Linked DNA regions of Homo sapiens: all the other regions are reported to be linked to region 1. The links are microRNA targets in miRTarBase. Many come from high-throughput screens and were not tested one by one. Region 1 holds a microRNA gene; each other region holds the end of a gene's coding sequence.

What was found. Region 1 holds the annotated microRNA hsa-miR-4799-3p (ACUGGCAUGCUGCAUUUAUAUA, at 2,525-2,546, opposite strand). A microRNA usually pairs through its seed, bases 2 to 8, with sites in the 3' UTR of a target mRNA and lowers its output. Matches are read on the target gene's strand: a 7mer-m8 pairs with bases 2 to 8, a 7mer-A1 pairs with bases 2 to 7 and ends in A, and an 8mer does both.
Region 2: miRTarBase lists GMDS as a target of hsa-miR-4799-3p. The part of its 3' UTR that is shown has no 7-base or 8-base seed match.
Region 3: the mRNA of ZKSCAN2 is a reported target of hsa-miR-4799-3p. Seed matches in the 3' UTR shown: 7mer-A1 at 2,392-2,398.
Region 4: the mRNA of SLC39A10 is a reported target of hsa-miR-4799-3p. Seed matches in the 3' UTR shown: 7mer-m8 at 2,139-2,145.
Region 5: miRTarBase lists ZBTB41 as a target of hsa-miR-4799-3p. The part of its 3' UTR that is shown has no 7-base or 8-base seed match.

What each region holds. Positions count from the first base shown.
Region 1 is chr4:147,780,727-147,785,184 of GRCh38, reverse strand. It overlaps MIR4799 (microRNA 4799), which reads right to left and starts at 2,590; the gene lies at 2,517-2,590. All of the region lies in intron 1 of ARHGAP10 (Rho GTPase activating protein 10), which reads right to left. RefSeq lists an enhancer at 4,237-4,286.
Region 2 is chr6:1,620,869-1,624,868 of GRCh38, reverse strand. GMDS (GDP-mannose 4,6-dehydratase) reads left to right here. Exons shown (of 11, transcript NM_001500.4): 10 at 329-397; 11 at 638-1,063. The coding sequence ends at 700. Among named protein-coding and RNA genes, the nearest start is that of FOXC1, 13 kb to the right of the region's middle. RefSeq lists an enhancer at 272-381.
Region 3 is chr16:25,236,487-25,240,486 of GRCh38, reverse strand. It overlaps ZKSCAN2 (zinc finger with KRAB and SCAN domains 2), which reads left to right. Exons shown (of 7, transcript NM_001012981.5): 7 at 1-4,000. The coding sequence ends at 671. Among named protein-coding and RNA genes, the nearest start is that of ZKSCAN2-DT, 19 kb to the left of the region's middle.
Region 4 is chr2:195,734,538-195,738,537 of GRCh38, reverse strand. It overlaps SLC39A10 (solute carrier family 39 member 10), which reads right to left. Exons shown (of 10, transcript NM_020342.3): 10 at 838-3,655. The coding sequence ends at 3,497. It overlaps DNAH7 (dynein axonemal heavy chain 7), which reads left to right. Exons shown (of 65, transcript NM_018897.3): 65 at 411-835. The coding sequence ends at 617. LOC107985972 (a long non-coding RNA gene) reads right to left here and starts at 416. Exons shown (of 3, transcript XR_001739837.2): 1 at 1-416.
Region 5 is chr1:197,155,884-197,159,883 of GRCh38, reverse strand. It overlaps ZBTB41 (zinc finger and BTB domain containing 41), which reads left to right. Exons shown (of 11, transcript NM_194314.3): 11 at 1-4,000. The coding sequence ends at 525. Among named protein-coding and RNA genes, the nearest start is that of ASPM, 11 kb to the right of the region's middle.

The DNA of each region.
Region 1 (4,458 bases):
ACTCTGTTTCAATGTTAAGTACTAATGAAAGCTAAACAAGTCAATATTCAGAGCTGTTCTTTCCCTTTAGCTTAGATGTTATTCTTTTTTTTTTTTTTTTTAGAAAATAGTCGTCCATACATTTCATCATCTTGGAATCAACTGCATATATATATTACATATATTTTATAATATATAACATATATTTCATAATATATATTTTAAAATATAACATATTTCATAATATATTTTATAACATGTTTTATATTTTATAACATATATTTTATAATATATTATATTTATAATATATATTTTATAATATATTTATAATATATATTTTATAATATATTTATAATATATATTTTATAATATATTTATAATATATATTTTATAATATATTATATTTATAATATATATTTTATAATATATTATATTTATAATATACATTTTATAATATATATTTATAATATATATTTTATAATATATTATATTTATAATATATATTTTATAATATATATTTTATATTTATAATATATAATATATATTTTATAATATATATTTTATATTTATAATATATAATATATATTTATTCTATTTTAAATATATAATATATATTTATAATATATATTTTATAAATTGCATAATATATATAATATATACTATAAAATATATGTTTTATATTATATATATTTTGCAGTATATATTATATATAAATTAAATATATATATAAATATAAATTATATAATATATATCATATATAACTTATATATTATGTAATTTAAAAATTATATATAACTTTATATTATATAATTTATAAATTATATATAATTTAATATGTATTATATAATTTATAAATTATATATAATTTAATGTTATGTAAATTATGTAATATAAAATTTAATGTTATGTAAATTATATAATTTAATGTTATGTAAATTATATAATACACAATTTAATGTTATGTAAATTATATAATACACAATTTAATGTTATGTAAAATATATAATACACAATTTAATGTTATGTAAAATATATAATACACAATTTAATGTTATGTAAAATATATAATACACAATTTAATGTTATGTAAATTATATAATACACAATTTAATGTTATGTAAATTATATAATACACAATTTAATGTTATGTAAAATATATAATATATAATTTAATGTGTGTTATATAATTATATAATAATTTAATGTGTTATATAAATTATATAATAATGTGTGTTATATAAATATAATACACAATTTAATGTGTGTTATATAAATATAATACACAATTTAATGTGTGTTATATAAATATAATACACAATTTAATGTGTGTTATATAAATATAATACACAATTTAATGTGTGTTATATAAATATAATACACAATTTAATGTGTGTTATATAAATATAATACATAATTTAATGTGTGTTATATAAATATAATAATTTAATGTGTTCTATAAATTATACAATACATAATTTAATGTGTTCTATAAATTATACAATACATAATTTAATGTGTTCTATAAATTATACAATACACAATTTAATGTGTTCTATAAATTATACAATACACAATTTAATGTGTTCTATAAATTATACAATACACAATTTAATGTGTTCTATAAATTATACAATACACAATTTAATGTGTGTTCTATAAATTATACAATACATAATTTAATGTGTGTTCTATAAATTATACAATACATAATTTAATGTGTGCTATATAAATTATACAATACATAATTTAATGTGTGCTATATAAATTATACAATACATAATTTAATGTGTGCTATATAAATTATACAATACATAATTTAATGTGTGCTATATAAATTATACAATACATAATTTAATGTGTGCTATATAAATTATACAATACATAATTTAATGTGTGTTATATAAATTATACAATACATAATTTAATGTGTGTTATATAAATTATACAATACATAATTTAATGTGTGTTATATAAATTATACAATACATAATTTAATGTGTTATATAAATTATACAATATATAATTTAATGTGTTATATAAATTATACAATATATAATTTAATGTGTGTTATATAAATTATATAATATATAATTTAACATATAATTTACATAATATATAATTTAACACATAATTTATATAATATATATAATTTAACATATAGTATATAATTTATATATATAATTTAACATATAGTATATAATTTATATAATATATATAATTTATATAATATATAATTTAATATATTATATATAATTTATATAATATATAATTTTATATATTATATAATTTATATATTATATATAATACGTAATATATGTTATATATATTTTATGTTGTTTTTATATATATATGAAAATTTTTCCTGGGTCTTTGGAGTCTTTAGAGACTAGCTGAGCTGTGAATAACTCAGGAATGCTGTCAAACTAACCAGGAAGTCTTTACACACATAAATTTTCCAGAAGTCTCTTCTTTCCTGTTTGCAAACTGGTCTGACCCCTCAGAACAAGTTGTACCACAGTCAGTACTGGGCATCTCAGACTGCTAATATATAAATGCAGCATGCCAGTCCCTGCATCTCAGGACTGGCATGCTGCATTTAGATATTAGCAGTGACTGAACCGATTACCACACAGGGCTTTACAAAACACCTTCAGGTCATTTGACCCAGCGATGTACACAGTTCTCACAAAGCAGATTTCTCAGCTTTAGTTCTTGCTGATGTTAAGACGACTCTTTCTGCTGACAACTGTTTCCACAAAGTATTCTCTAACTAGTAAATGACTCATACCGGAAGAACCCACTCCTGAAAATGTATTAATTTCATGCTGATAATAAAACGCATATGCCATGTGGAAAATGCCACCAGCACTCCATGACACTACACAACTTCAAAGACATAGAGTCTTGCTCCTCATGAAAACTCAACGTAGTTCAACACGCCCAATACATGATCTTTCAACCATACTGTGCCAAACTGTCAATTTTCAGAGTCAAGTATTTGTATGCCTAAACCCCACACACCCACCACAATTAAATTCAGTATGATTCAGTCTCTCTGCAGGACATTCACCTTATGGCAATGTGGCAAATGCTGCACTAGCAATAAAACTGTTCTCTTCATTCAAGTTGTTACTTTGCTATATTACCCCTTTGCAAGGCAAGGTCACAAGAGACATACTAAGCGGTAAAACTATTCAGCGACTTTTTAAAAGCCACTTATTTTACCGTATTTCAGAAATCAATGAAACTCAACTGTCAGTTTTCCAATGTGGAAACTCAGATTTAAAATAGATACCTAGAGTTTAGCAATATGTATCAAGAATTATACAAATCTGACTAAGAATTTAACTATGGAAATACTGACGCGTAAAGATGTACTTTGCTATCACTTATAATAACAAATAGCTGGAAAGAAATCTAGATTAGTAATTGTATGCAATTAATAAAGAAAACTAAGCCGAGATTGCGCCACTGCACTCCAGCCTGGGCGACAGAGCAAGACTGTCTCAAAAAAAAAAAAAAAAGAAAAGAAAAGAAAAAAATGAAAGAAAACTGGTACATTTAGAAGGTGAAACACTTAGCCATTAACGATATTCTTAGTAAAACATTTAGTATGGCAACATAGTCATAATAAGGACTACTATACCCTTTTTTAAAAATGGAGAACAAAACAAAAATGTCATAGTATGAACATAGTTGAGGGTCTTGACAAGGCGGTATTTAAGATGTAAAAGTAGCTCCCCGTATTTTTAAATGTGTATATATGACTTGCATATTCCCCATATGTAGGGTGAGCCTACATCCTGGCTTGCCAGGTCCAGCCCAATGTAAATATGAAATCATGTCCCAGTTTGGTCAAAAATTAAACGGTTGCCACACCTACCTATCCCCCAATAGTTTCTGGCACAATCTTAGCTCACTGCAACCCCCACCTCCCGGGTTCAAGTGATTCTCCTGCCTCAGCCTCTTGAGTAGCTGGGACTACAGGCACAGCTAAATTTTGTATTTTTTAGTAGAGACGGGGTTTCACCATGTTAGCCAGAATGGTCTCGATCTCTTGACCTCGTGATCCGCCCGCCTCAGCCTCCCGAAATGCTGGTATTACAGGCGTGAATCACCTTGCCCGGCCCCGCCAGTAGTCCTAGGTTAGGTCACTAACAGTTACTCCCTAAATCTATAGGGTTAAGTTTCCCACCATCAAATGCAAATCTGAGCCCTTGCGTCTTCTCTCATTCTCTGGAGCGTCTTCTCTCATTCTCCCAAAAGTGGGAGGTGGAGGACAAATGGCTTAACCCACACAAAATTGATGATACCAGCCTAGTGAGGCATCTTCCCTTGGCCCAGTCCACCCTAGGTGGACTTGCTCTCAGAGGATGCCATGCCGGCAGCACTCCTTTAGGTACCTGCTCACCCTGCTGTGTCTCAAGTTCTGTTACTACTTGCCTTTTCTGTCACCCCATGGCTGCTGCCCTGCTTATA
Region 2 (4,000 bases), not on the chromosome of region 1:
CAACTTCATGTTATAAAAAAAAAAAAAAAAAAAAAAAAAAAGCATTAAGAGCCCAAGGGACGCCTTGGGGAGAAGAGGTGTGGAGGTAGCTGGGGGTGGATCGCGGTCACGGTCCTCACGGGTCCGCACAGCACATTCTTAACCGCGACCTAGTGATTTACGGCGCCGAGAGCCGCAACTGAACGCGCACAGCAGGGACCGAAAGCAGGGAAACCCGGAGCCTTGTGCGCCCAGAGGGAGCGGAACGGTGGGAGTTCCCGGGGCTCGGGACCTGCTGCCCCCACCCCCACGACCCACGCCTGCTTCGTCTCCCCCTCTTCTTCCCTAGGACTTTCTGCAGGGCGACTGCACCAAAGCGAAACAGAAGCTGAACTGGAAGCCCCGGGTCGCTTTCGATGTGAGTATCTCTTAGGGCGCACGCCGCCCGCTGCGGGGCCCCGGGCTGCAGGGCGGCAGCTCTCAGGGTCGGGCGCCTGAGGCGCCTGCGATGCCCAAAGCCCGGAAGGCGGGGTGCGGGAGAAGTGAGGGGAGCTGGAACGAGGGACGCGGAGGCCTCTCTGGGGCCGACACCCGGGGTGGGGTGTCACCAGGAGAGAGTGGCAGAAGCTCCTCCCTCACGCCCACCCCTGTGTTGCAGGAGCTGGTGAGGGAGATGGTGCACGCCGACGTGGAGCTCATGAGGACAAACCCCAATGCCTGAGCAGCGCCTCGGAGCCCGGCCCGCCCTCCGGCTACAATCCCCGCAGAGTCTCCGGTGCAGACGCGCTGCGGGGATGGGGAGCGGCGTGCCAATCTGCGGGTCCCCTGCGGCCCCTGCTGCCGCTGCGCTGTCCCGGCCGCAAGAGCGGGGCCGCCCCGCCGAGGTTTGTAGCAGCCGGGATGTGACCCTCCAGGGTTTGGGTCGCTTTGCGTTTGTCGAAGCCTCCTCTGAATGGCTTTGTGAAATCAAGATGTTTTAATCACATTCACTTTACTTGAAATTATGTTGTTACACAACAAATTGTGGGGCCTTCAAATTGTTTTTCTCTTTTCATATTAAAAATGGTCTTTCTGTGAACTAGCATTCACAGGGTCAGTGTGGATGTTTTCTCCCAAGTTATGAACACGGCTATAGGGGTCCCCAAACAACCCCACAATCCAGGCCTTGGAATGAGATCGCTGTGGTCAGGCCTTGCCCTGTTTTGAGAAAGCCCTTGGTGGGAGGACTCCTGCAAGGCTAAGGGGGGCGGGGGTGCTCCGGCGAGCCTCCTCCTTAGTCTTTGCCTGGGACATTTCTTTCCCCCTCCTGGTGACAAGTCACTCTGGAAACCTAGTTCCTGCAGAAGGGAGGAATTCACACCCTGGCTGGTCTCTGCTGACTATAATTAGAACCCAAGGGCTCTCACCCATCTGAAAAAGAAGTCTTGAGAAATAGAGGGGGGTCAGAAGAAGAAACTTGAAGGTAAGCAAATACTGTTGGAACATTCCATGGCAAAGCCACCAAGTTACCTAGAGGTCTCTGAGCCTGTGCCTTTCCTTGTGGTCTAGAATCTTTTACACAGTGCTTATTTGCAGCCTCTTCTTATGACTACTAGGTCACTTTTTAAATCTCAGTTTAATGTATTCATTCAGCCATTTATGTTAAGTGCCTAATACATGCCAGACATTGTGCTATGCACTTGAACGACATCAGCGTTAATTTGAAGCTATAATAAAAAGGTTTAAGGCTCAGCCTCAGATCTCTGGATCTGGTTTGTTTGCATGCATCATTTAGGTGGCCTGGGTAAGACCACAGGTGTGTGCTCCTGAGCTGTGTATGGTGTACAGCTACAGGTAGGCTGACGCACACATGTGCAGGACACCCACAGGCAGCAAGCAAGGATTCATGTACAGGTGTATACCTCCACATGAAATACAGTATTTTGCCCTAGAACAAATTAGGTCAGGACACTTCTCCCCCTCACTCCCCTTCCAAGCAAAATAAAATAAAACTTTATAGCAAATGGAATTCCAGCCTTTGCACATGTGTGTGTGAGTGCGGGTAAACTATTTCTGAACGTCTTCACAGGCAGGTTTATGATCTGGGGGAGGACCGAGTCTCCAACGACTGGCGCAGGAGAGAGGGCTCTTTGTGTGGCTGCCCAGTTGCTGTGAAAGCTTGCTGGCCGGGCGGCCTCGCCCTCGATGGAGCAGAACTGGGGGGCCTGAGCTAGCCCACCCGCTCCTCAGAAGCTGTCCCAGGACTCGCCTTCTCTGCACTCCCAGGCGGGATGCTGCTAATTGGAAACACATGGTTGCTGGGAGGCCGGGCCTCAGCCTGGGCGGGATAGTGGGCACACACACAGATACATACTCACACATTGGCTCGAACACAAACATCCATGCACATCCATTCACAAGTGCACATACACTCCACAAACATGCCATCTCACAGTCACACATTCTCACAAACACTTGCAAACCCAACTCCCAAACCCACTGTCACACACATCCTCCAACAAATCTCACAAAGAGTCACATTCCTCTTAGCCTTGACCCTGATGGGCAGGCACCCCCTCTCCTCTGACCACCGGAACCTCCCTTCCCACACCCAGGAGAGACTATTCCAGGGGCCCTCAGGCTTGCCATGGCCCTGTTTAATTCAGTGTTGCTTGTTTGGACACCTAGAATCAGGAGAGATTCTAGGCAGGGGTTTATGCAGCTCCAGTTGAGCCATGATGTTGAATTCTACTTCTCCAAACGGATGGCAGCATCCATGTTTGAAGGAAACTAAAAAGTATTTTTGGTTGCAACCTTCTCACTGCTCCTGCACCCTGAGTAATGGAAGGAGCGGGAGTTCATTTGGCTTCCTGGTGTATGTGGTTTAAAAGGAGAAAAGGAGAATCGATTTACTTCGGCATTTTTTATCTATTTCTGTGCTATGAGAGAAATTCATTTGGACATCCTTCAAGACAATTCTTATTACAGGGTTTCTTCTATCTTAAATCTCAATTAAATTTCAGTAAACTTATTTTTTCCTGCTCTGCCAGACTTTGGCTGTTGGTTTCAAATGTTACAAAACATCTTCCACCTTGATATTTTTAAGGAAAAACTGAGAAAGTTAAACCTTCAGTTAAACTCACATACCATGGCAAAGCAATCTTGCCCGAGTTTGTGCAGGAGGTGCGTGGAACCCGGGTAGGCCAGGCCCCGTCGCGGGCTCTCTCTGCTGCCCTTTGTCTTTAAGGAATTGCGAGCGAGCTAGGCCCAGCATAATAAACCTGTCACACCTCTGCAGCTGTTTAGGGGCTCAGGCTCAGCCGCTGCTGCTGCTGCGCGCAAGATGGCTCCTTCGGAAGGCCGGGTCCGCTTGGCCGCGGGCGCTGGCGAGGAGCGGGTCGGCGCTGGCAAACCCCACAGGCATGGCTTTGGGTTCTTTTTCGCCCCTTTTAGTAGCCTTCGCCTACACCAACCACCGCGAACCTCGTGGAACCTCTGGCAGCCAGTTGGAGGGCTCCTGGCAGATGCAAGGAGTGTTATTATCGCACTAATGTGTTATTAGAGCTTGGAGCAGGCAGCACTTTAAACATTCACTTGAAAATAACCTTAAATGTATTGTTTACAAGTAACTTTTTAACACCCCTCCCCCCAAGTCTCAAAGCACCCTACGCACTTTATTTGGATTTGGGAGTGCCTACTGGGTGAATTCTGTTTTAAGGTGCAGCCCACACACGTCCAGGTGTTTTCTACAACCTGCATCCTTGATTGGTACGCGGGTGGCATGGAGGGGTGGTGGCAGCGCCCATCTAGGTTTTACAAAATGAGTGTCCCTGTGTGTGCGTGGACGTGCCTCACAAAGAGACCTTCACGTCCGTACATGCCACCCGCACCCTCCAAAAATTGTGGATTGCCATCACGGGGGTCGCTAATACTTTTAACAAGCAGCAGGGGCAATGGGGGACAAAACGGCGCTAGGAACTGGTCCACCGTCCACAGTGTGTCCCCTGAGAACACCCGGGGTCTGGGCCTGATCTCCAGGAGT
Region 3 (4,000 bases), not on the chromosome of region 1:
AGAGACCCTACAGACTTCTCAAATATGGAGAAAGCTTTGGAAGGAGCACTCGTCTGATGTGCCGGATGACCCACCACAAGGAGAATCCTTACAAGTGTGGTGTCTGTGGGAAGTGCTTTGGTAGAAGCAGGAGCCTGATCAGACACCAAAGAATCCACACAGGCGAAAAACCTTTTAAATGTCTTGACTGTGGAAAAAGCTTTAATGACTCCTCAAATTTTGGTGCCCACCAGAGAATCCACACAGGAGAGAAACCCTACAGATGCGGAGAGTGTGGAAAATGCTTTAGTCAGAGCTCTAGTCTTATTATACATCAGAGAACGCACACCGGTGAGAAGCCCTATCAGTGTGGAGAGTGTGGGAAAAGTTTCACCAACAGTTCTCATTTCAGCGCCCACCGGAGAGTTCACACTGGGGAGAATCCCTACAAATGTGTGGACTGTGAAAAAAGTTTCAATAACTGTACGAGATTTCGAGAACATCGGAGAATACACACTGGAGAGAAGCCCTATGGATGTGCCCAGTGTGGCAAACGTTTCAGTAAGAGTTCTGTTCTTACCAAACATCGGGAAGTTCATGTGAGAGAAAAGCCTCTGCCACACCCTCCATCTCTGTATTGCCCTGAGAACCCACATAAGGGAAAGACTGATGAATTTAGGAAAACTTTTTGATGATGATCTTCTCTTCCTAAATGCCCCCTTAGCCATTTTACCCTAATCTCATTCTTGGAAGCAATCTTTTCTTAGCTATGAAGTGTAATTTCCAAGATAAACTTGAGAATATAAATAAACTAAACACTTTCATCCTGTTCTCACCTCTGCCTCTAACTTCATCAGTCTGTTCCTCCTCTTCTGTGTGTCTCAGCTTCTCCTTTAAGAATGTGGCGAAGATACATTGTCCGAGTTCAGAATGAAATACCCTTCAGTACATTGAGGCCACTGCAACTGGATTGCTAAGTTCGGCAACATTCAAGATCTTCCATATGGGTGAGAGTTGTCTTCAAGGATATAAAAAATGCCAAAAGTTTTTTTGTTGTTATTACCTACTCCGTGAGATCCTGGATGAAACTTGATAACAGATTTTCACATTTAGATAGAACTTTGAGGAGTCTGATCGGAACTACATCAAATCCATCTTGGTTTTGAAGAGATCCACAAAAGAAGAGTGAAGATTTTATAGCTTTCCTCAGAAGTCTGTTACAGTGTACCTTTTTTTTTTTTTTTGTCAAGAAGTTGATCCAAATAGCTAGGGCAGAATCCCTGTATTGTCACTGAAATCCTGTTACTAATGCCTTGCCCTCCATGGAGGTGAGAAGCAATTGATCACCCCTCATCCTTTTCTGTACCCGAAGACTTAAATCCCCTGGCTGCTGCTTCTCCAGCCTATAAGTAATCCCAGGTCCTCCTACTGTTTCTCATAGCCCTGCACTTGCCTCTCAGTTGCTCTGGGTGCTCCTGCCGGCCTCTTCCGAACTACCATGCCCTCCTCAGATAGAATAGGAGGCCTGCTCGTGGTGTGTCTCACTAAAGCAAAGTAGGATTTCAGATGCGTTCTAGTTCTATCCTCTAACTTCTCTGGCTCTTATCTAGAACATGACTGGCATGTTGGCATATTTCGTACCTCCCACCCCTGCACTGCAGTATAATATTATAATAGTGTTTCTAAAACTTTAAGGGGATAGGGAAGAGGTAATAGACACCTGAAGCATTTCTAAGACCAGTTGGACTCCTTTGGCCTGCTGTCGATCAGATAGCCACCTCAGCTTAGACCAGCGCTCTCAGGTCTGGCTGTTAAATCTCCCAGTCTCTTTTCCTGAGGCTTCTAGTCCCTGTTCACCGCATCAGAAACCTAACTGTAGTGTGCCAAGTAACTTAACACAACTCTAGAGCTCACTGGGTGAAAAGTGGGAACATTTATAAAAACTTCAATCCAGAAATCCAGAACACCGTTTTTGTTTTCCTCATTTACTTGTTTTGTCTGAAAAATCTCTTTGAGAACCCCCGGCAGTAACCCAGTAAACACTGAAGGAAAAGTTCTGATGGGGGATGGTTAATTGACTTTTGAAGTTACAGATGAAACCCAGAGATTTGATTTTCCATGGCCAGTTGCTTCAGGATGGAGTCAGTGGCGTTTATTCCCTTAGTATGTAGGTGACCCAGGGTGGCTTTGCTTTGGCAAGGGAGAAGTCACAAGTTTAATGGGAAGGGAACCGGAGTTAGGGCTGTTTGTGGGTGATTATTTTGCTCTTCTCTCTCCCTTTCTTTGTCAAATGCTCTTATTTGAAGCCATCTGGAAATGATATTTTTCCTTTTGGTATGTTTCAATCTTTTGAAACTTGTTCAGCAAAGTACCTAGGAGGGTAGGCACTGTAGAAAGAAATCTAATTTATGGTGCCAGAATAGGGTGTGGCCTGTTGGAAGGCAGGTGACTCAGGTAGACATTGATAAATGTTTCTGATTTACATTTGTTGGAAATATTATGACTGTTCACATCTCAATAGGTTGATTTTTCTGTGTTGTCCAAGTTATAGATTTCTAATGCTAAGTACAGTTCCATGTTGGTAGTGTGCGTAGCACAGTAAGATGTTTGTGGTGCCAGTGGGCTTGTGTTTATATTGTGTAGATGTTCTGGAATTCCAGCTCTAGAGAAGATGTAAATTAATAGAAATCACCACTTAATAATATGTACACAGGATTGATATTATGTGGAAGCATGATTCAGGAAAGTAGATGACTTATTCATAAATATGAAGCACTGTTACATGTAAGGCCATGTTCTAGCCACAGTGAATGATAGAAAAAGGAAGGAAGGGGCATGGTGCCTGGGCTCAAGGAACTCACAGTTTGATAGAGGAAGCATCACAGCAAAAGTTGGGGCCACTTACACCATGGCAGTTACAGAAGGCCAGGAGCTCAGTCATGAGAACATCACCTTCCCCTGCAGAAGAGTTGCGCTAAGTTGCCCAGAATCATATTCTGTACCTTCATCTCTCAACCTTCCCCAGTGGCAGGAAAGGGTCAAGCAAGACCCATTCCCTCTCTAGTGGGACAAACTGATTCTGTTTAACTCTCATATGCCTGGGAGCAAGCTGAGGTGGAATTTGGGTTCCCCTATCTCTACTCCTAATTGTAAATGGGCTGTCTAGACATGTGTTACATTAATTTGATGAACTTTGTTCTGAAGAAATGGAAGGTCTCCCCCCCATTTTAGACCAACACTACCTGTCTCCCTGCATTTTATTTGTTTTCACCTGGTACATGTAAGTCAAAATGAATAATCATGTTCTGACCAATGTGTCTTTTAGATCACATAACATTGCCTTTATGAAGATTCATAGAAAAAGGTTTTTTTATCTAGATCTCAGTGCCAAGGAAAGCTCTGATCCTAAGCGCAGTATGTGTACACACACACGTCTACATGTGTGTGTAGATCTGTATGTATGTATTACAAACACTGTGATTTTTGTAACTTAAGCTGCTTTTTCTCTCTTTGTTCTGGCTGCTGGAAAGTTCAACAAAACTTACAGCCCACCTCAACCAACTACCCCAACCTATATTTATTTAATTTCATCTTATTTCCTTGTAAATTGTGTCAAATCCTGTTTTTGAAAAGCAGCATAGACTGACAACTTTTCACTATCATCTTATCGAAGGCATTTTGGAAACTGGGGTCGTATGTCCCACCTAGGCTTGCTTTGTTACTGCCACAAATACCTCCAGTTCTTACCAGTGATGTTATTATGCATTCAACCTAATTCATTCATCTGGAAAGAAACAGTTTTTTAAAAAGGGAAACCTCACACGTAAATGGCTCAGGGCAGCCTGGCCTTGGTGGAATGAGCATGAGACTGGAAGCTGAAAGAAGCAAGTTTTAATCTTGTCACTAAATGAGTGTTGTTTGACACATCATAGCCTCTCTGGGCCTCGGCTCCTCATCTGAAGAGAAGTTGAACTTAACTGCTAAGTTGCTCTGGCTCTAATGTTTCATGAGGCTGTGGAGC
Region 4 (4,000 bases), not on the chromosome of region 1:
TACAGCTGTTGATAAAAATCCCTTCAGAATTTTTTGGGACTGGCTTTCAATTAATATAAAGGCACATGATTCTCAGTATCAGTGTGGCAATTCTCTCCTTTGAAAGTGTATCTGATTTTTTTTTTATCATTGTAAGCACTAAAAGTCATTTCCCAGGTAATTGTGGCTGAGTGAGAGATAAATAGGTAGAAAATATGCTTTTAGAAAGAGAAGGCGAAAACTATTTTTTTCAGTTATGAGAGTTCTATAAAATGTTTTGAGCAATCACAACAACACTGCTGGTGAAAATAAATTTGGGCCACAGAAATCTGCATGCATAACCTTACTCTGAGAATACTATAGTAGGCTCAAACACATGTACATTTAACAAACAGCCTTGACTTAAAGAGGTGTTATGTACTTTCTTCCAGATGTGGCTAAAGCCCTGTAAGAGGGCAGATATACCAAAACGGCCAAGTTATGTTGCTCCATTGTATAAGACAAGTGAGCGGAGAGGAGTATTATCCACCACTGGCCATTCCACGAATTTTGTGATTGCCATGACTCTTCCCTCTGACCAACCCAAGGAACACTGGATTGGACGAGGTGTAGCACTGTTATGTCAACTTAATTCATAACCAGAAGACATCATTTCCTTGTTCCTATTTCTTGTTGGCTGGCTGAGTAGAGAAAGCATATTTTACTACTTAAACCTTTTTTTTTGTTTGTTTAAATACATTTGACTAAAGTTATAATTATGAATTTACTTATGAGCAAATGCAGCTAAACTTAATATGACTCATACTTAAATGTAAGGAAATGTTCTGAAATAAAGACTAAAGAAAACACACTGGCATATTTGCTCTCTTTGAGTAACTTTATTTTGGAGGAGTTCCATAAGCATTAGGAACATACATAAAATGACACACCACTGTTGACAATGAAAAAAAAAAAACAGCATTTGATATTTTCCAGCTTTTTAAGTTAAAAAATGATTCAGTTAAAACAAAACAAAAGTTTAGATATTTTAGCAAGAATCACCTTGCAGGACCATAATCACATTTAAGCCACTGACTTGTTTGTTTGTTAATGGAAAAAATTCACACTGCATCTAGTTACTATAGTATTTCTAAGCATAATCAATCAATCACAGCTGATTGATTGAATGCAATGTGATTGATTGATTGATTGATATATACCAAAATTCATATGGATGTCACACAGTGACAGCATTGTACAAGTAACGTTAATGACCTCCAACAAACACATTTTAAATTAGACTGGTCAAGCTAAAAGGAATGTTGGAGCCAAAAGAAATGTAGTGGAATTCAGATTGTCTATTAAGACTTGAAACTATACATTAGAATGATGTGGAACCCTAATACTAGCAGCAACTGTTACAGCCCTCTTAAAAGATTTGTAAGAATCTAGCAAATAAAGAAAGATAATACCATTTTTGAGAGAATATAAAACTTCTTTATATACTTCAGCATAACCTACTTGCTTTAAATCAATCAGGCATTTATTTTAAAACTGGGAGTATATTCCAGCTATTGCTTTTATAAAGGTTCTAAAATGAAGCAGATTTAATGCTGGAATGCAGAATCCTACCGTGGGTATAAAAACCCAAAAGTGAACTATAAATATATCTTGGTTCAGAAATCTAGATAGATAGATATCTAAATCACTTGAAGTTGGCAGTACTAAATAAAATATCAGCACCTTTTAGCTAGGTTGCTTGAAGGGCCAAGCAATGAGATGAGGACTGTCCTAATTCAGTGCCCAATGCTGAAAATTAATTATATATAAAACTTCTACTTATTATAAGGAGGCCATGGAGTAAGTCAGAAATAATTTTTCAGATTCAAGCATAAATTAAAGAAATAACACCTAAGCTCCCTTGCTTATAGCATACAGAAAAGACACTGGCAATAATCTATAAATACCTGGATGCATGTGCTGCTCTCAAAGTTTTGTTTTTGTTTTGAAGTTCATAGAGTAGGAGGAAAGAAGAGTACTAAATGAAAACATTTTAGATGGAATGGAAAAGAGTTTGGCTCTTATATATTTGAACAATAAGATAGATTGTTACAGCAGCTACACTGGTTGCCAAGCAGATTAAAACAAAGCTAGCTGCACATAGTTCAAATACAGTTTACCTGGCATAAATGAAGACCATGTGGCATAGGATGTAAACAGAAAGCTACATGCATATGACTAGTAATACAAATTATTAAGTAAAAATTCAGGATAAACATGGCTTGCACTTCTCACAAATCATTCACAATTATGGTAGGAGAACAGGGCACCTAAAAGACTAATCCCTATCAGGCACCAACAGCATATCTTGGCACAAGATGATCAAGTGATTTCAGCTGAGTAATTTAAATGCATCTTCCAAGTCACTTGGGTACCATGACAGCCATGGCAATAATGGAGTTTATCCTAGTAACTGTTCTAAATTGACACTTCATGTACACATTACAGACATGGTAAACTTCGATTTTCTGCTTTACAACCTTGTAGCCAGCCACGACATGTGCTCTTGGTTCCAGTGCCAAACTGGTAAAGCAATGTGAACATTCAGAACTTACATTTCCCAATTAACTAGTTGGTACTGTTAAAATAGGAAAATCAACTATTTAAACCACGTCTGGTTCATTTCTTTGATATTTTCTAGAGGGTTACAATTTTTTAAAAAGACCACATGCTCCAAACCCTCACCTACCCCCGCCAAAAAAAAAAAAAAAAAATCAAAACAAAATTAAAGTAAAAAACAAAACAGAAAGAACACCCCAACACCAAGTATTATAATAATACAAAGAACCATTATGAATCTTTCATTAAACTGAAGCTCACACAAACATACAATCACAAATTTCAGTAGTTTAGGCTGCAGGTTTAAACACTATGCAAATATATACAAAAATAGTAACTCTAGATTCAAGAATAAGGGCTTTTCCCAATGCTAAATTCATACTCTAATGCAGCCTGAGCTTTCCTCTAGTTCCTATGTCTACTTTATGCAGTTTCAAAGTTGTGTCAAGTTGATCCCTATCACCACATGAATATATGTAGCTGAATTAAAGAGCACTACAATTCATTCTTAAAACACACAAAAAATGTCTCCCCAAAGTCCATTTAAAATATTTTTAAAGTTTAAATGATTTTTTTTGGTTCGATCTCTATTTCTGCATAGCCACAGAAGTTTCTACTAATAAAGAGACTAGTGTTTTATATGATTATTTTGTGAAAAGTCTTAATCAAACATATCAACACTGGTTCATGGAGTCCCATATTCTCCTCTCTTTATCACAAGCTTTATATTTTTAAAAGACCCCTACGTGCAGGGAAAACAGTACTAAGCACCAGCCTCTTGTGGTTAGGCTCAAATCTATGAAACTTGTAAGTAGTGCAAGCCACTGACTTTCCTTTGAGCAATGTGCATACAGTACAAGGAACAGATGCAAAGCTGCATGGTAACATTCTCGTAATCAACAGTGATTACTGGGAAAGGTCAAAACTGGATGTCAAACACAATTTTATCTTCATAGAGGGCAATCACCAGCATAATGGCAAATCCAAAGAGCAATCCTAAATTCTGAAGGATGAATTGCCCCACAGGACAAAAGCCATGTTCTTCATTGTCACCATCACCATGCAACATTTCTGGAAGCTAGAAAAATAAATCTTCACATTAAACTTTGTATAATACTTCTGCTCAAAACAGTTTTTAAAAACATTTTCCTACTTAAGAAAATTAGTGACTGAAGTGTAACTACAGACAAAATAATTATTTTATTGAACACAATGCTACCCACCAGATGTATTTTAGTCAAATACTGAAGAAATTTTATGCTTTTGCTAGGAAATACTAACTCTGTTCCCTCCTCCTCATCCCCCACAACAAACACTTAAAATATGCACATTAGTCATTTTTCAAACAGTTACTATCCACTGACCTTATAAATTCTGACATTTTACTTTATGCTAAAGCATAAAGCAACTTATTACCAATAAG
Region 5 (4,000 bases), not on the chromosome of region 1:
AAAGACAAGCTGAAATACCACATTGACCATGTTCATGAAATAAAATCTCCTGATGATCCTCTCAGTACTTCTGAGGAAAAACTTGTATCCTTGCCAGTTGAGTACTCATCTGATGACAAAATCTTTCAAACAGAAACAAAACAATATATGGACCAGCCCAAAGTTTATCAGTCGGAAGCCAAGACGATGTTACAGAATGTATCTGCTGAAGTATGTGTTCCAGTAACTCTGGTTCCAGTTCAGATGCCTGACACTCCGAGTGACCTAGTGCGTCATACTACCACACTCCCACCATCTTCTCATGAGATTCTGTCACCACAGCCACAGTCAACTGATTATCCACGAGCAGCGGATTTAGCTTTTCTGGAAAAATATACTCTTACTCCTCAACCTGCAAATATAGTTCACCCAGTTCGACCTGAACAAATGCTAGATCCTAGAGAACAATCTTATCTTGGAACATTACTGGGCCTTGATAGCACTACTGGTGTTCAAAATATTTCTACGAATGAGCATCATTCATGAGTAAATCTAAACATTCCACAGATTTTTGGATGGTTATATGCTAATGGTAGAGATGATAGCTTTTAAATTTGTGGGGCTGCTATTTTCTTGTTTTCTCTAGTTTCTCAAGTCCTCAGAACAGTTTCAAATCAAGAAAACTATGTGTCTCTGTTTACTGAACATGAATATTTGGACAAAATTTCTGGCATAATATTTGAAGTGCACATTTTTGTGATTTTTAAAGATTATTTAGTGCTAACTTTTAATGGTTTCTTAAATTTTTTGCAATTATTAGCTGCTGATATTATGGAAGTATTTTTTTTAATCATCAGTGGAAATTTTTATTCTTCTTTAGTCTCATTCCTCTCCTTCTTCTTCCTAGCCCTTCTTACAAACAAGTTTGAGGACCATGTAGCCTTTAAGAAGGAATTAAGAGTACACTGATAATTGCAACTGTTTCTTATCCTAAGATTCAATATTACGTTATACAAATTTTTAAAATTGAAATTAGGAATTTGAATTTACAAGAATGCCTTGGATATTTCTGTGTTGTCTTTCCATTCATACATAATTTTAGGTTATCATTATCCTTTGGACTTTTGATATACTCAAAGCCAGAAAGCTTAACTAATGTAAGATTAGCTATTATTTGTAGGACTGAAATAATAATCCAGATAATTGGTTTTTGCCTATACTTCAATTGTTATGAATAAGAAAGGCAAACATAGGTCTGGGCATTAAATTATACAAACTGAAAATGTGTTACAAGAAAAATATGAGAGTTTTAACTAGATGTTTTTCAAGGTAAGTTCACCTTTTGTACTTTACTATTTATTTCAGAAATGTTGACAATACAACATAGCATATGTCTTCATCTCACTAAGAAAAGAGCAGTTGTAACTCAATGAAATTTAATTAAACATGCTACTTTTGATTTCATTTACTTGGCTGATAGAAACTCTGGGAAACAGAACCTAGATATTTTGTGTTCAATTGTTAGAAAAGGTGCCAAACAGATTATGAAATTTGTGCCTAATTTAACTTAACATTGTTTAATTAAATGGAACCACTACTTATATACAGATTTACATGCAATCCAGATCTTTAATTTTGCCTTCACAAAAGCCTAATGTCTGTAATTAACCTTTAATTTTTATTTCTGTATGAGACAAAAGTTGAGGACTTGGTGAAAGGAAATAGCAGTTACAGCAAAACCTCAGTGATTACAATTGAGGAAAAAGTCAAAATTATAAAATACCTTTAAAGACATGCACTTTCCATATTTTCAAGTCAATTTTAACTAAAAACTAAGATAATGTTTCCTAGTAGAGTTGCTTGAAGATTAGACTAGACAGGGTTGATTTATTATTAGCATGTCATTTGTACATAAACTAGTAGAAAATAGCAGTTTTAAAAGTTTTCTATTTCAGTTTTGTTTACACTCCTAATTGCTTTAAGCACTTTTTTTGTGTGTGTAAACTGTAAAGTCTAGCCCAGCCCTTGTGAAAAAAAAAATCACAAATAAAACAGTGAAGTTTTAATGAATAAAGTTTAATCAATTAGTAATGGCGGAAACTGTCGCTGAAGCACTTAAGAAATAAAGGTACTTTACAGCAACATTCGCCATACTAGCGGAGGTAAAACAAAAGAAATATTGAAAACTGAGGCAGTTAACCAAAGTAGCTCATATAAATAATAAAACCAATCTGAGTTTAGCCTCATTTGTCAAGGTTTGGTTGTAATTGTCTTAAGACTAGTGGACATACTTACTATGTTCTCCTTTTTAAAGTATTCTTATTTCTTTGTGTGGAAATGTTATATCTGGGGTACTTACATGATTGAGGTTGACTATATGAGGTACTGTTAGTCTGTTAGTCTTTCAAATTGACTTTTAAAAATACATATCTTTATGATTTTCATCATAAAGACTGGCAATATTATAACTAAAAATCTTACTATAATGAAAGAAATCATACATAAAAATGTAGCCTGCCTTACATATAAGCTAATGTAGAAAAGTTTAGACTTATAAAAAGGCAGATAGTATATATATATTTATATACATGTATGTATATGGTATATTATACATTTGGTGGCAGAAAAAGAAGATACTGCATTTTCACATTGAAAAGAATACTTTGATTTTTGAAGGTATTTACTTTAGGGTTCTTTTAATAATAATGTCCGTCCTAATGCTTTAAATATATGATTTAATTGTAGGAATTGGTTTACACAGAACTTTTTTGGAATACATCTCTTAGTAAAGTGAAATATAATAATATAATTGTATTTAGTTACTATTGTAGATAACTTAAACTTGAGTAGTGATTTACTGTTTTATAAAATGCTTTCATATATGTTATCTCATTTGAACCTCATAACCAGCCCTGAAATAGTAAAAACAAGCTATATTCCCACTTTATAAAGAATTTGAGGTTAAGATAAAAGGACTCATTTAAGCTCACATGGTCAGTAGGTGGCAGAGCTACTAGTAGGGAAAGAAGAAAGCTAGCATTAATGAATGCTTACTATGTGCCAGGTACTACATCCTGTCATTTAATCTTAACCTAGTCTGGGAGATGCGTAATATAATTCTGGTGAAGTAATAGTTTCAGTGGATGATTGAAAACAACAACAACAAAAACAAAATGAAACTAATCTGCTGCCTCTAATTTCCAAAAATGTAAGAAATTTTACAATTGTGAAAACCTCATGGATTTGGGCAAACTGAATGTATATAGGCTTTTGACAAAAGTTGGCACAAAAAGTATAAAAGGAGGCCTATTCTTTTCAGTTGACCTTTTGTAATATTTGATTTAGAGTATTTTGGACAAATGCTCTATAACTCTAATCCATTTATTTTGTAACTGTACTTAAAATTTTGAATCTTGCAACTAAGTTTAGCCTCATTCAGAATTTTTTTATTTTGTGAGCATAATTTATTGTTTTAAATTAATTTTTTAGCAGATAGCAGTTAGCACTTAATCTGTAAATTGAATAATTTATCAAGTGCAGGAATGTGTTAATCTAATGGGTTTTGACTTAAATGCACCAAAGATTTTTAGTAGGTATTAAATAGTTTAAAAGACTTTAAATTCTTTCTTGCTTGAATAACTATTTGTCCAAAGAAGCACAGTTGAAGTCCTAGAATAATGGATTTTTTTAAAAAAAAAAAGTTGTTAGTTTGAATACTGAGATTGATTATTGTGTTTATATGTATAAAAATAGGAGCAAAAGAAAATACTCTGGGAATAGTCATACTGACAAACCAATTATAAGTGAGAATACTGTTTTCCTTAGTTTAATTAATACAATGTTATGTTTTTTAGAGAACACTACTAAATGCTAAATAAGCCTATTTTTTACACTACACTATCAAAATAATTTTTGCCTTCGAATTTTTTTAAGTCAAGTTGAGGTTATTTTTGTAAGAAACCCAACCTATTTTTTTTGCAGCCTAAAATCCCATTTAAGGTTAGGGGTTGGTCCTTATGCC